3 linked regions of the Homo sapiens genome follow. The protein of the gene in region 2 purifies or fractionates together with the protein of the main gene of each other region. This does not show direct contact. Each region holds a gene or a part of one and is shown on either strand. Other genes may lie near its edges.

What was found.
Region 1: the proteins of CD82 (region 2) and ITGAL purify together in Homo sapiens (affinity purification with western blotting, with the first as the bait; one study listed by BioGRID). This does not show direct contact.
Region 3: the proteins of CD82 (region 2) and HBEGF purify together in Homo sapiens (affinity purification with western blotting, with the first as the bait; one study listed by BioGRID). This does not show direct contact.

Annotation. Positions count from the first base shown.
Region 1 is NC_000016.10:30,486,111-30,489,758, reverse strand, and holds part of ITGAL (integrin alpha-L isoform a precursor), read right to left. Parts: intron 865-3,648; exon of another isoform or gene 793-864; coding exon of another isoform or gene 771-792; intron 678-770; coding exon 604-677; intron 506-603; coding exon 373-505; intron 1-372.
Region 2 is NC_000011.10:44,603,551-44,607,198, forward strand, and holds part of CD82 (CD82 antigen), read left to right. Parts: intron 1-867; exon of another isoform or gene 868-908; coding exon of another isoform or gene 909-951; intron 952-957; exon of another isoform or gene 958-1,180; intron 1,181-1,467; exon of another isoform or gene 1,468-1,507; coding exon 1,508-1,632; exon of another isoform or gene 1,633-1,787; intron 1,788-1,804; coding exon 1,805-1,879; intron 1,880-3,648. UniProt on the Homo sapiens protein: Structural component of specialized membrane microdomains known as tetraspanin-enriched microdomains (TERMs), which act as platforms for receptor clustering and signaling.
Region 3 is NC_000005.10:140,340,025-140,343,672, reverse strand, and holds part of HBEGF (proheparin-binding EGF-like growth factor precursor), read left to right. Parts: intron 1-860; coding exon 861-1,038; intron 1,039-3,648. UniProt on the Homo sapiens protein: Growth factor that mediates its effects via EGFR, ERBB2 and ERBB4. Required for normal cardiac valve formation and normal heart function. Promotes smooth muscle cell proliferation. May be involved in macrophage-mediated cellular proliferation.

The sequences.
Region 1 (3,648 bases), on a different chromosome or scaffold from region 2:
TCACCATGTTGGCCATGCTGGTCTTGAACTCTTGACTTCAGGTGATCCACCTGCCTCAGCCTCCCAAACTGCTGGGATTACAGGCATGAGCCACTAGGACCAGCTACAAGGCATATTCACAGGCAAGTTGTTTACTATCTCTAGGAATTTGCCTACCCTGGGAGAGGTAGTCTTTTCAGGATTAGCACGGCCCCAAGATGTCAAAGCATCAGAAAATACAGACAATAAATTATGAATGTTATAGCCATATTTAAACTCTGACTTTGTTCATGCTGGTTGCTTAACTGCTTTCATTATTGTTTTGGAAGCCAGGCTGAGCGACCATCTGACCTCAACAACCAGAAGATCCCAGCAGAAAAGAGAAGTACTCACCCAAATAGCCTGCTCTCACTTCTGGTGTCAATGGTTCATTCCCAATAAATGTGTCATCCTGCAGGTCTGCCTTCAGGTCAAGAAAGCCCCCAGCCCAGTCCTTGGCTCCTACTGCCCCCACGACTGCATGGCCCTGCCCAGGGAAGGAGATGAGCGGGTCAGCTACCCACCGACCCACCCCCCAGAGCCAACTGCACTCCCTGCAGCCCATTGCTCCAGCCCAGCACGCACCCTGCTGAGGTCAGCACTGATGCCGCTGGAGGACAGCTCCATGTTGAAGGAAGTCAGGTCCTGTTTGCTTGTGCCTGGGGAACAAAGCAGAGAACAGGTGAGACCCAACAGCAGTAAATGCAGTGAAAAAAATTCATGGCAGGACGGGGAAGAAGTGAGGTATTTACTTCTGGGTAAGGTAGAAGGCATGCATGTGAGGGTCAGGCAGACCCAGGAAGTGGCTTAATGCGGAGTTGGCTTTTACCCTGGGAGTCCCAGATTTGTTTGTTTTTTGTTGTTGAAACAAGGTCTTGCTCTGTTGCCCAGGTTGGAGTGCAGTGGCGCAATCACAGCTCACTGCAGCCTCAACCACCCAAGCTCAAGCAACCCTCCGGGCTTAGCCTCCTGGATAGTGGGGACTATAGGCACACACCATCACACCTGGCTAATTTTTTTTTTTTTTTTTTTTTTTTTGAGATGGAGTCTCTCTCTGTCACCGAGGCTGGAGTGCGGTAGTGCAATCTCAGCTCACCACAGCCTCTGCCTCCTGGGTTCAAGCGATTCTCCTGCCTCAGCCTCCCGAGTAGCTGGGATTATAGGTGCACCACCATGCCCAGCTAATTTTTGTATTTTTAGTAGAGATGGGGTTTCACCATGTTGGCCAGCCTGGTCTCGAACTCAGGTGATCCACCCGCCTCGGCCTCCCAATGTGTTGGGACAATGACAGGTGTGAGCCACTGTGCCCAGCCTCCAGATTTGAATATCCAATTACTCATCTCCATGTGTCCAAGACTCAGCTCTTGGTTTCTGCTCTGACTCAGGCTTCTCACTTCAATGAATGGCACCCCCACTCACCTAATGAACCATGCTAAGAAACCAAATCCACCTGGAGTCTTCTCTATACTCCATCTCATCTCCAACACATCACCAAATCATGATACTCCTGCCTTTGAAATACACCCTTTTTCTTTTTTTTTTTTTTGAGACAGGGTCTTGCTGTGTTGCCCAGGCTGGAGTGCAGTGGTGTGATCATAGCTCACTACAGTCTCAAACTCCTAGGCTGAAGAGATCCTCCTGCCTCAGCATCCCAAGTAGCTGGGACTACTGGTATGCACCACCGTGCCTGGCTTATATAGCTTCTCCTTAAGAACTCTTCACTGGCTGTGCGTGGTGGCTCATGCCTGTAATCCCAGCACTTTGGGAGGCCAAGGCAAGCAGATTACCTGAGGTCAGGAGTTTGAGACCAGCCTGACCAGCATGGTGAAACCCTATCTCTACTAAAAGTACAAAAATTAGCTAGGCATGGTGGGACATGCCTGTAATCCCAGCTACTTGGGAGGCTGAGGCAGGAGAATTGCTCGAGGCTGGGAGGCTCAAAAACAACTGGAGGTTGCAGTGAGCCAAGATCGCACCACTGCTCTCCAGCCTGGCTGACACAGTGAAACTCTGTCTTGAAAAAAAAAAAAGCCAGGCACAGTGGCTCACACCTGTAATCCTAGCACTTTGGGAGGCCAAGGCGGGCAGATTACCTGAGGTTAGGAGTTCAAGACCAGCCTGGCCAATATGGTGAAACCCCGTCTCTACTAAAAATACAAAAAATTTATCTGGGTGTGGTGGCAGGCGCCTGTACTACTAGCTACTTGGGAGGCTGAGGCAGGAGAATCGCTTGAACCGAGGAGGCTGAGGTTGCAGTGAGCCAAGATCACACCACTGCACTCCAGCCTGGTGACAGAGCAAGACTGTCTCAAAAAACAAAACAAAACAAAACAAAAAACCTCTTCATGGGCTGGGCACAGTGGCTCACGCCTGTAATCCCAACACTTTGTGAGGCTGAGGCAGAAGACTTGCTTGAGCCCAGGAGTTAAAGATCAGGCTGGGCAATATAGTAGAAACTCTGTCTCGGCCGGGCGTAGTGGCTCATGCCTGTAATCCCAGCACTATGTGAGGCTGAAGCAGGAAGATTGCTTGAGCCCAGGAGTTCAAGACCTGCTTAGGCAATATAGTAGAAACTCTTTTTTTTTTTTTTTTTTTTTTGAGACGGAGTCTCACTCTGTCGCCCAGGCTGGAGGGCGGTGGCACAATCTTGGCTCACTGTGAACTCCACCTCCAGGATTCACGCCATTCTCCTGCCTCAGCCTCCCGAGTAGCTGGGACTACAGGCGCCCGCCACCACGCCTGGCTAAGAAACTCTTGTCTCTACAAAAAATTTAAAAATTAGCCAGGTGTGGTGGTGTGTATCTGTAGTCCCAGCTACTCAGGAGGTCAAGGTGGGAGGACTGCTTGAGCCCAGGAGTTTGAGGCTGCAGTGAGCCGTGATCGCACTACTGCACTCCAGTCTGGGCAACAGAGTGAGTCCCTGTCTCAAAACAACAACAACAAAAAACTCCTTCATGATTTCTCATCGATCTTCACACTGAAATCCAAACTCTTTCTGAGGGCCTGGAAGACCCTTACCTCCCTGCCAACCTTCTCTCTCCCTTCCTCACTGCGCTTCGGTCACACTGAACTTTTTCCATTTTCCTGGCATGCCGAGCCCTTTCCCCGCCCCTGGGCTTGCACCTGTGCTTCTCTCTGCCCTCATTCCACCTTTCTCACATTGCTGTTTGAATCTCATCTTTCATATCTCAGCTTAAAAGCCAGTTGAGAGTGAGTTTTTTTTAAAAACTTTTTTTTAAAAAATCACTTTTCATTTTTATTAATTATTTAGACATGGCTTCTTGCTATGCTGCCCAGGCTGGACCATTGCTGCTGATTTTTTTTTTTTTTTTGAGACAGTTTTGCTCTTGTCACCCAGGCTGGAGTACAGTGTCACAATCTCAGCTCACTGCAACCTCTGCCTCCTGGGTTCAAGCGATTCTCCTACTTTAGCCTCCCAAGTAGCTGGGTGACCTCAAGTGATCCGCCTGCCTCAGCCTCCCAGAGTGTTGGGATGACAAGCGTGAGCCACCACGCTCAGCCCATTGCTTCTTTAACTGAACCGAACACCAAGGCTGTGTCCTAGCAAAGGAGACTTTCCTGTAGGAATCACATATCTTTCAGTCAAGTAAGCTTCCTGGGGAAATGCCC
Region 2 (3,648 bases):
CGGGTTGTAACGGACTCAAGCATCTGCATCCCTAAGAGGCTCCTCTGATCCACACTACTCTCCAGCCTTCTGGAGACGCCAGCACCCTCGCCCTCCAGGTGCGTCCCATGCCCTGGGGGTACAGTGTACCCATGCTGGTGAGTTAGAGATGACATGAGCTTTACCCTGTGTGATGGGTTGGGTGTCTTAGGAAATGTTGGCCAAGTGCCCCTGCAGGACTCCTGACCTCTACCTCCCGGAATGGGCCTGTCCACAGGTAGCTCTAAAGAGGGTCTTAGCCATCAGGCCCATTCCTGTACCTCCTAAGCATCATTTCCTCCCGGGCTTCTTTCTTGCTCTCACTGGTCCGTTCTCTCACCTTCTTTCCAATCTTCAAATAACCAAGCTCCTCCTTCCTCAGGCCTTTGCACCTGCTGTGTTCCCTGCCTGGAATGCTTTTCTTACAGATCTTTGCTTGGCTGACTTCTTCATTCATGTCTTGGCTCAAATGTCACTGGCTCAGGCTGGCCTTCGTCGACCCATTCTGACCCTCTCCCAGCCCAGCAGTTCTCTGCAGTTAGCCAGCTTTGGTATCTTCATGGCGCCCAACACAACCAGAAAACCTGTATTGTGTACTTTTTGTCTCCACTCCCCACCCCCAAATGTCAGACCTTGTTAGTCACTCTTCTGCATCCCCAGCAACTGGCACAGTGCCTGGCATGAAGTGGGCACCCAGTAAACATTTCTTGGCCGAATGAACATGCAGCACACCTGTAGCAATACATGTGCCCCGTGCATCAGTGGAAAGAGTGTGGCACTGGAGATTTGCATATTTTCAAATTCCAGCTCAGGCCCTTGCCTGTTCGCCTTTCTGAGCCTCATTTTTTTCTTCTGTGAAATGGCCATGCTAGTGCCTGCCAGGCAGGGTGATGTCAGAGTTGGAGACGGCGTGTGGAAAGCCCATGAGGCACAGTGAGTGGGCAAGAAAGGCTGGTGTTTGTTATTATATGGACAAGAAGGAAGGCGGGTTAAAAATCAGCTTGGAATCTTAATGTCAGTGGCCCCTGGAGAACCAGCCAGCCTCTTGTCTGTCAATTCCGCAGATATTCACTGTGCACAGCACCTCACTGCGAGAGGCGCTGTTCGAGCTGGGGGTTCCCCAGGAATAAAGTGAAGCTTCTGCCCTCATGCACCTCAGGTCCTTGGTGGAGGGGGAGAGCAGACAATGAGCAAGAAGAATCAGTGAAATGTAGTCTATTCAATCCTGAGAAGCCTTACGAAGTAAAAAATAAAGCCGGGAAGGGGCTTAGGCTGGATGAGGGTGTGGATTGCAATTTTACTGGGGGAGGGACACAAGTGGGGATGGGGGTGACCTGGTTCCCTGTTGGGCAGTGAGAAGCCAGCAGGGGAATGCAGCTGACCCCAACACCCTGGCTCCAAAGAGGGGATCCGGAAGAAGACCTGGACGGTTAGGCCAGGTGTTTATACCTGCTGTGCCCACTGATTTTGTACTTCTTCTTCCCCCTAGAAACCTCCTCCAGCTCGCTTAGGATGGGGGCCTATGTCTTCATCGGCGTGGGGGCAGTCACTATGCTCATGGGCTTCCTGGGCTGCATCGGCGCCGTCAACGAGGTCCGCTGCCTGCTGGGGCTGGTGAGTACGGATCCCTCCGCAGCTGCCTGCCCATTTCCTCTCATCCAGCCGAGTGCAGCCTGACCGCGGCGCTGGCCGTAACATCGGGTGGAGAGCATCTCTCGGGGCACGCAGGCTGGGTGCACCTGGTCGGGGACCCTCAGCTGACTTTGTGCCTGCTCTGTGTCCCCAGTACTTTGCTTTCCTGCTCCTGATCCTCATTGCCCAGGTGACGGCCGGGGCCCTCTTCTACTTCAACATGGGCAAGGTAAGCCCCTCTCTCCCTCCCTCTTCACTGGGCTGGACCAACCATGGGGGTGATTGACTGAGTGTGGGGGATGGACAAGGAACCCCCCCAGTTGTCACAGACAGATCCAGTAGGTGTCAGGGACGGCCTCCTGGACACTATTCCTTGTGATCAAATGGGGGAGCGTTAGAAGAGAAGGCGGCAGGTGTGGGCAGTCCCCGCTGGGCCTGGATCTTAGCCTGACCCCCCTGCTTTCTAGCTGTGTGGCCTTGGGCAAGCTGCTTGCCTCTATGTGCCTGTTCCACCATCTGTAAAATGGAAACAATAAGAAAACTGAACTCTCAGAGTGGTTGCAAAGATTATTCGAGATTATCTGAGTGAAACACATAGCGCATGGCACCATAAGTACTCAATAAATGTTATTCTTGTTATTATTAAGATACTTTAGCAACTATTAAATCCATGCCACTCACCCACAAATGAGGTTTAGAAGGAGACCGTTAATAAAAACATCAGTCTTGTGTCCGAGGGGAGATGTTCAGCTTTCAGAAACAGAAAATCAGACTTACAGCGGCTTAAAGTTGAAGGACATCTGTGGTTGACTTGACCGGAAGTCTGGTTTGGAAGCTCAGAGGCCCTGGTTCTGGCTGTTGAGCATCCTCGCTGGGATGGCTTTCCTGCATTATGACACTTACCTCGTGGTTCCAAGATGGCTGCCACAGCACCAGGCACGATGTCTGTGCCGCTGTGGCCTGAAGATGGGGAAGTGGGCAGTGCCAGACATGGCCATCCCTTTTATCAGAAAAGGCGCAGTGGCTCATGACTGTAATCCCAATACTTAGGGAGGCAGAGGTGGGAGGATTGCTCTGAGACTAGCCTGGGCAACATGGTGAGACCCCATTTCTACAAACAAATTTTTAAAAATGCTAGCCATGGTGGTGTTCACCTGTGGTCCCAGCTACTCAGGAGGCTGAGGCAGGAGGATCCTTGAGGCCAGGAGGTTGAGGCTACAGGGAGCCATGAAACAGAGCTTGGGGCAACAGAGTGAGACCCTGTCTCAAAAAAAAAAAAAAAAAAAAGTCCTCCAACAGACTTCCCCAGACTGGGTTACAAAGCCACCCCTGGTTGCAAAAGAGGCTGAGAATGTGAGTATCCAACTTTCAGACTCTAAAGACAGAGGCACAAGAGAGAAAGGAGCCAAGAATGGCTGTTGGGTGAGCCAGTTAATTGTGAGTCACAGTTATCACGTAAGAAGCACCTACTGTGTGCACGTGGGATCTTCTAGAAACTTTCCATACAGCGTCTTGTCCTCACAATGGCTCTGCAGGGTTTTATGTTGACAGATGGAGAAGCAGATGCTCTGAGATGAAGAGCAATAACAACATAGATAACAGTGACTCTAACACCCACCATCCCTCCAGTTGAGTCCATGCACAGCATATACCAAGTACAGTGTTGACCACGTTACACTCCTCCTCTCGCAGATCCTCACTAGGCCCTCTCAAGGTCGTGGGAGAATCCCCGTCCTGCAGATGAAGGAGTAAGGACAGCCTAGGCTCCCTGACTCCGAGTCCTGAGTTCACCCGTCCCCAGACCCTGCTGCACATGGCCTGTGGCCTAGCAGACCCTTAGGGTCCCTGCTTCCAGTGCCACCAGTTCTTGTCCACCAGGGAGGGTGGCAGAGCCGGCAGCCAGATAGGCTCCTGCCCTTCACCACTTGAAGGTCAAGTTGCCTGAGATCCCTCTTGGAAGGAAACTGAGAAAACACTATACCAACATCAACATCAACA
Region 3 (3,648 bases), on a different chromosome or scaffold from region 2:
CTGGGTGAGGCTGTTTTTCCCCCAGTCTCTCTGAAGCATGGAAAGAAGGAGGGAGTCATCATTGTTCCAGTTCCTTCTGGACAGTTCCTTACTTTCCATTTTTCTATCCCTTGTACACCCTGTACCCCCCAATCCAGAGAGCTATAAACAGGACATTGGGGGTTAAATATGAATGAATCTTTGAGAAAGTGGGTGAGCTGTAAAGGGTATGCAAGTTAAATATTTTGCTTGAAGTTGAAAAAGCAAGGCCGTGACCAGGGCTGGCCTGCTTGCTGTTCCTGAGCCAGGCTCTGCCCTGGGCTCATAGTACTAAGGGGTGCCCCAGAAGAGACCACCTGAACACATGGACACTGTTCTTATATTAGGAGCCCTCCAACCCCAGAACCTCCAAGTACCTTCTCTAGAAGCAATTTTTGTGTGTGACACTGTCTTTCTGCAAGTGGTTCACTGAGTACAGCATCAGGAAATGAGGCTGATTGAAGGCCAAAATAGAATGAAGTGGGTGTGGGGGAGTAGGAGATGGGGGTGTAAGGTGGACAGTGGGGTGGAGGTGAGGTTGGTAGAATTGCCCAGTTACTCAACAAAAGCATTCTGAGAATGAGGCTCTTACACAGAGACTGTGAAATGCCTTCCTTGGGACCCACCCTAGCTTCTACTTCCTACCGAGGTTCCCTCTTTCTGGTGGTTCTGCCCAATCTTCCTGCTCTTCCTTCTGCCTCTTAGGAGGCACTGAGCTAAGGGGCCTTCCCAGATCTCTGACTTCAGGTGGAATCAAAGCATATATACTCCTTTCAAGCACTATGCTCTTCTGATTTTCTTCCCAAAGAGTCAGACTTTAACAGAGTGCTTTTCTCCTACAGTCACTTTATCCTCCAAGCCACAAGCACTGGCCACACCAAACAAGGAGGAGCACGGGAAAAGAAAGAAGAAAGGCAAGGGGCTAGGGAAGAAGAGGGACCCATGTCTTCGGAAATACAAGGACTTCTGCATCCATGGAGAATGCAAATATGTGAAGGAGCTCCGGGCTCCCTCCTGCATGTAAGTGCCCCTTCCCCAGGGCTGAATCTCATCAGCACACTTTGTCAGCCACGTGGCTGTTCCTCGTTGTCACTGTTCCTTGAATTCATAATTTCACCCAGTTTCTTCTCAACCTCTGGGCGGAAGTTGGGAGGAGGGGAAATATATTTTTAGTCAGCGGAAGCCCCCTCCCCCCTATAGGATGCAATTTCCTGTGGTATGGTTTTGTGACGTGCTTTAATCCTTGGGGACATTTCCTGCTTGCCCAGAAATGAGCATGTGGCTAGGACAGCTGGCACCTGAAGGCAGGCCCTTAATTCTTGCCTGATGCCCTACTCTGGGAGGGAGAAGCCAGTAGGAAACATGGCAGAGTGGGCTTCCAGGGCAGAGTAGAGCTCCTGTGGGAAGGTAGGAAGTGCATTTGGATGCATGATGTATAGGTATGTGTGTATTTGGGTTTATGTGCATGTAAGTGTGCAAATGTGGATTGACTGTGAGGCATGGCAGGACTGTACAGAGAGGGATCATCATGGCGGCAGGTTGAGGCCTCTCTTTCTTCTTCCTTATCCCAGCAAGGACGAGGAGGTGGGAGACATGGAGAGTACTGGCCTTTGGCCACGTTGTGAGAGAACAATTCCTTTGTGCAGGGTTCACAGGAAATGGAACCTGACCCATTAGGCATCAGCCCCCGGTCAGGCAACATCACCCCTTCCCTGGGTAGGTGTGTGGGTGGAGGGGCTGTGGGTTCCTTAGCCTCTCTCCTAAGCCAAACCCAGCAAACGGCTGCCTTGGCAACCCCTCAGGGATGACAGCACTGCCATGCTCTCTGGCAGGCATAATGTTGCCACTGTGCCTGAGGCCAACACCCTGCGTCAGGCTGCAAACATCCATTCCCTTCCCTGTGGGGAGGGAGGCTCTGGGGGCCTTAGTGGGAGACTCTGGACAGGGCCAAGAGACTGTTGTATGCACACTGCCTCCAGCCTGTCAAGAAGGCGGCGTGCCTGGCATCCCTTCTACTGGTGATTGGTGCAGATCCCTTAGCTTTTTAAAGCTTCCTTGTTTTGTCTGATCACACACAGCAGAGCTGCCCTGTATTTGGCAGTTGGCAGACAGACCCATCACTCCCCACCATGTCCACAGTCACTTGTGCATCCTTTCCTATAACATCCTTGTCAGGAGCTTGGTATTAGAGGGAGTTGTTTAAGAGTGGCATAGAAAGCCCCCATATTATCCTTCCCAAGGTCTTGGGACAGGGTGGGAAATGTTCATCTTAAATTTGTAAAATGGCATCATTAGTACAGGGTGAAGAAGGTGACTCAAGTAGTCAAGGTGGATTGAGGTCAGGAATCTGTCTATACCAGATTGGTCCTGGGCATTTTGGTGGATGGATGTGGGGCTTGCACTGTGTGGTTGAGAGGCCTTATAAGGTTGCCCTCCTGGAGAGCTGGACTCGGATGACCACCTAAACCCAGAGAACCTGATATGGGTGCCCAGGCCACCTTCCCAGTGGTCCCTAGGGATAGTGATAACTATAATGATGTCATATCTCCTTTGTCCCAGAGTTTCAGTGTTTATATATAATATGAGTTGAGCCCAAGTATGTTGAGCCCCTATTTGGTGGCAGACACTACTTTAGGAGCTGGAGAGATATAGTTTCCTGGGATTTTTCAAAAGCCCTCTGCTGAGTAGGCAGGACTTGGTACCTCTACTTGAAAGGTGATGAAACTGGAGCCAGAAAATAGGAAGTAATTTGCCTGAGGTCAATAGCTAAATAAGTAGTTGGAAATAAGACAGAGTCTCAGTACCTGACTCCTAGTCCAACATGCTTTTCATGCCCTCAAGCTGTACTGGGTGTTGGCTTTCATCTTTCTTTCCTGTATCTGTCCTTATAGAGTTGGAGCAGCATTTTATAGAGGGCAGAGGGCAGCTGTTGTCCTAGAGGTCTCTTATTCTTTTACTAGTCTAACAGCACAGCAATCTGATTTGAAAACTTTACATTAACTTCTTGGGCAGAATTTTCTTTTTCTTTGTTCTTTTCTTTCTTTCTTTCTTTTTTTTTTTTTTTTTTTTTTTGAGACAGAGTCTCACTCTGTCTCCCATGCTGGGGTGCAGTGGTGTGATCTCAGCTCACTGCAACCTCTGCCTCCTGGGTTCAAGCAATTCTCCTGCCTCAGCCTCCTAAGTGGCTGGGACTACAGGCACCTGCCACCATGCCGAATTAATAATTTTTATATTTTTAGTAGAGACGTAGTTTTGCCGTGTTGGCCAGGCTGGTCTTGAACTCTTGACCTCAGGTGATCCGCCTGCCTCAGCCTCCCAAAGTGCTGGGATTACAGGCATGAGCCACCATATCTAGCCTTTTTTTTTTTTGAGATGGAATCTCGCTCTGTCACCCAGGCTGGAGTGCAGTGACACAATCTCGGCTCTCTGCAGCCTCCGCCTCCCAGATTAAAGTGATTTTCCTGCTTCAGCCTCCTGAGCAGCTGGTATTACAGGCACATGCCCCCACATCTGGCTAATTTTTAAATTTTTGTGGAGATGGGGTTTCACCATGTTGGCCAGGCTGGTCTTGAACTCCTAACCTCAAGTAATCAGCCTGCCTTGGACTCCCAAAGTGCTGGGATTACAGGC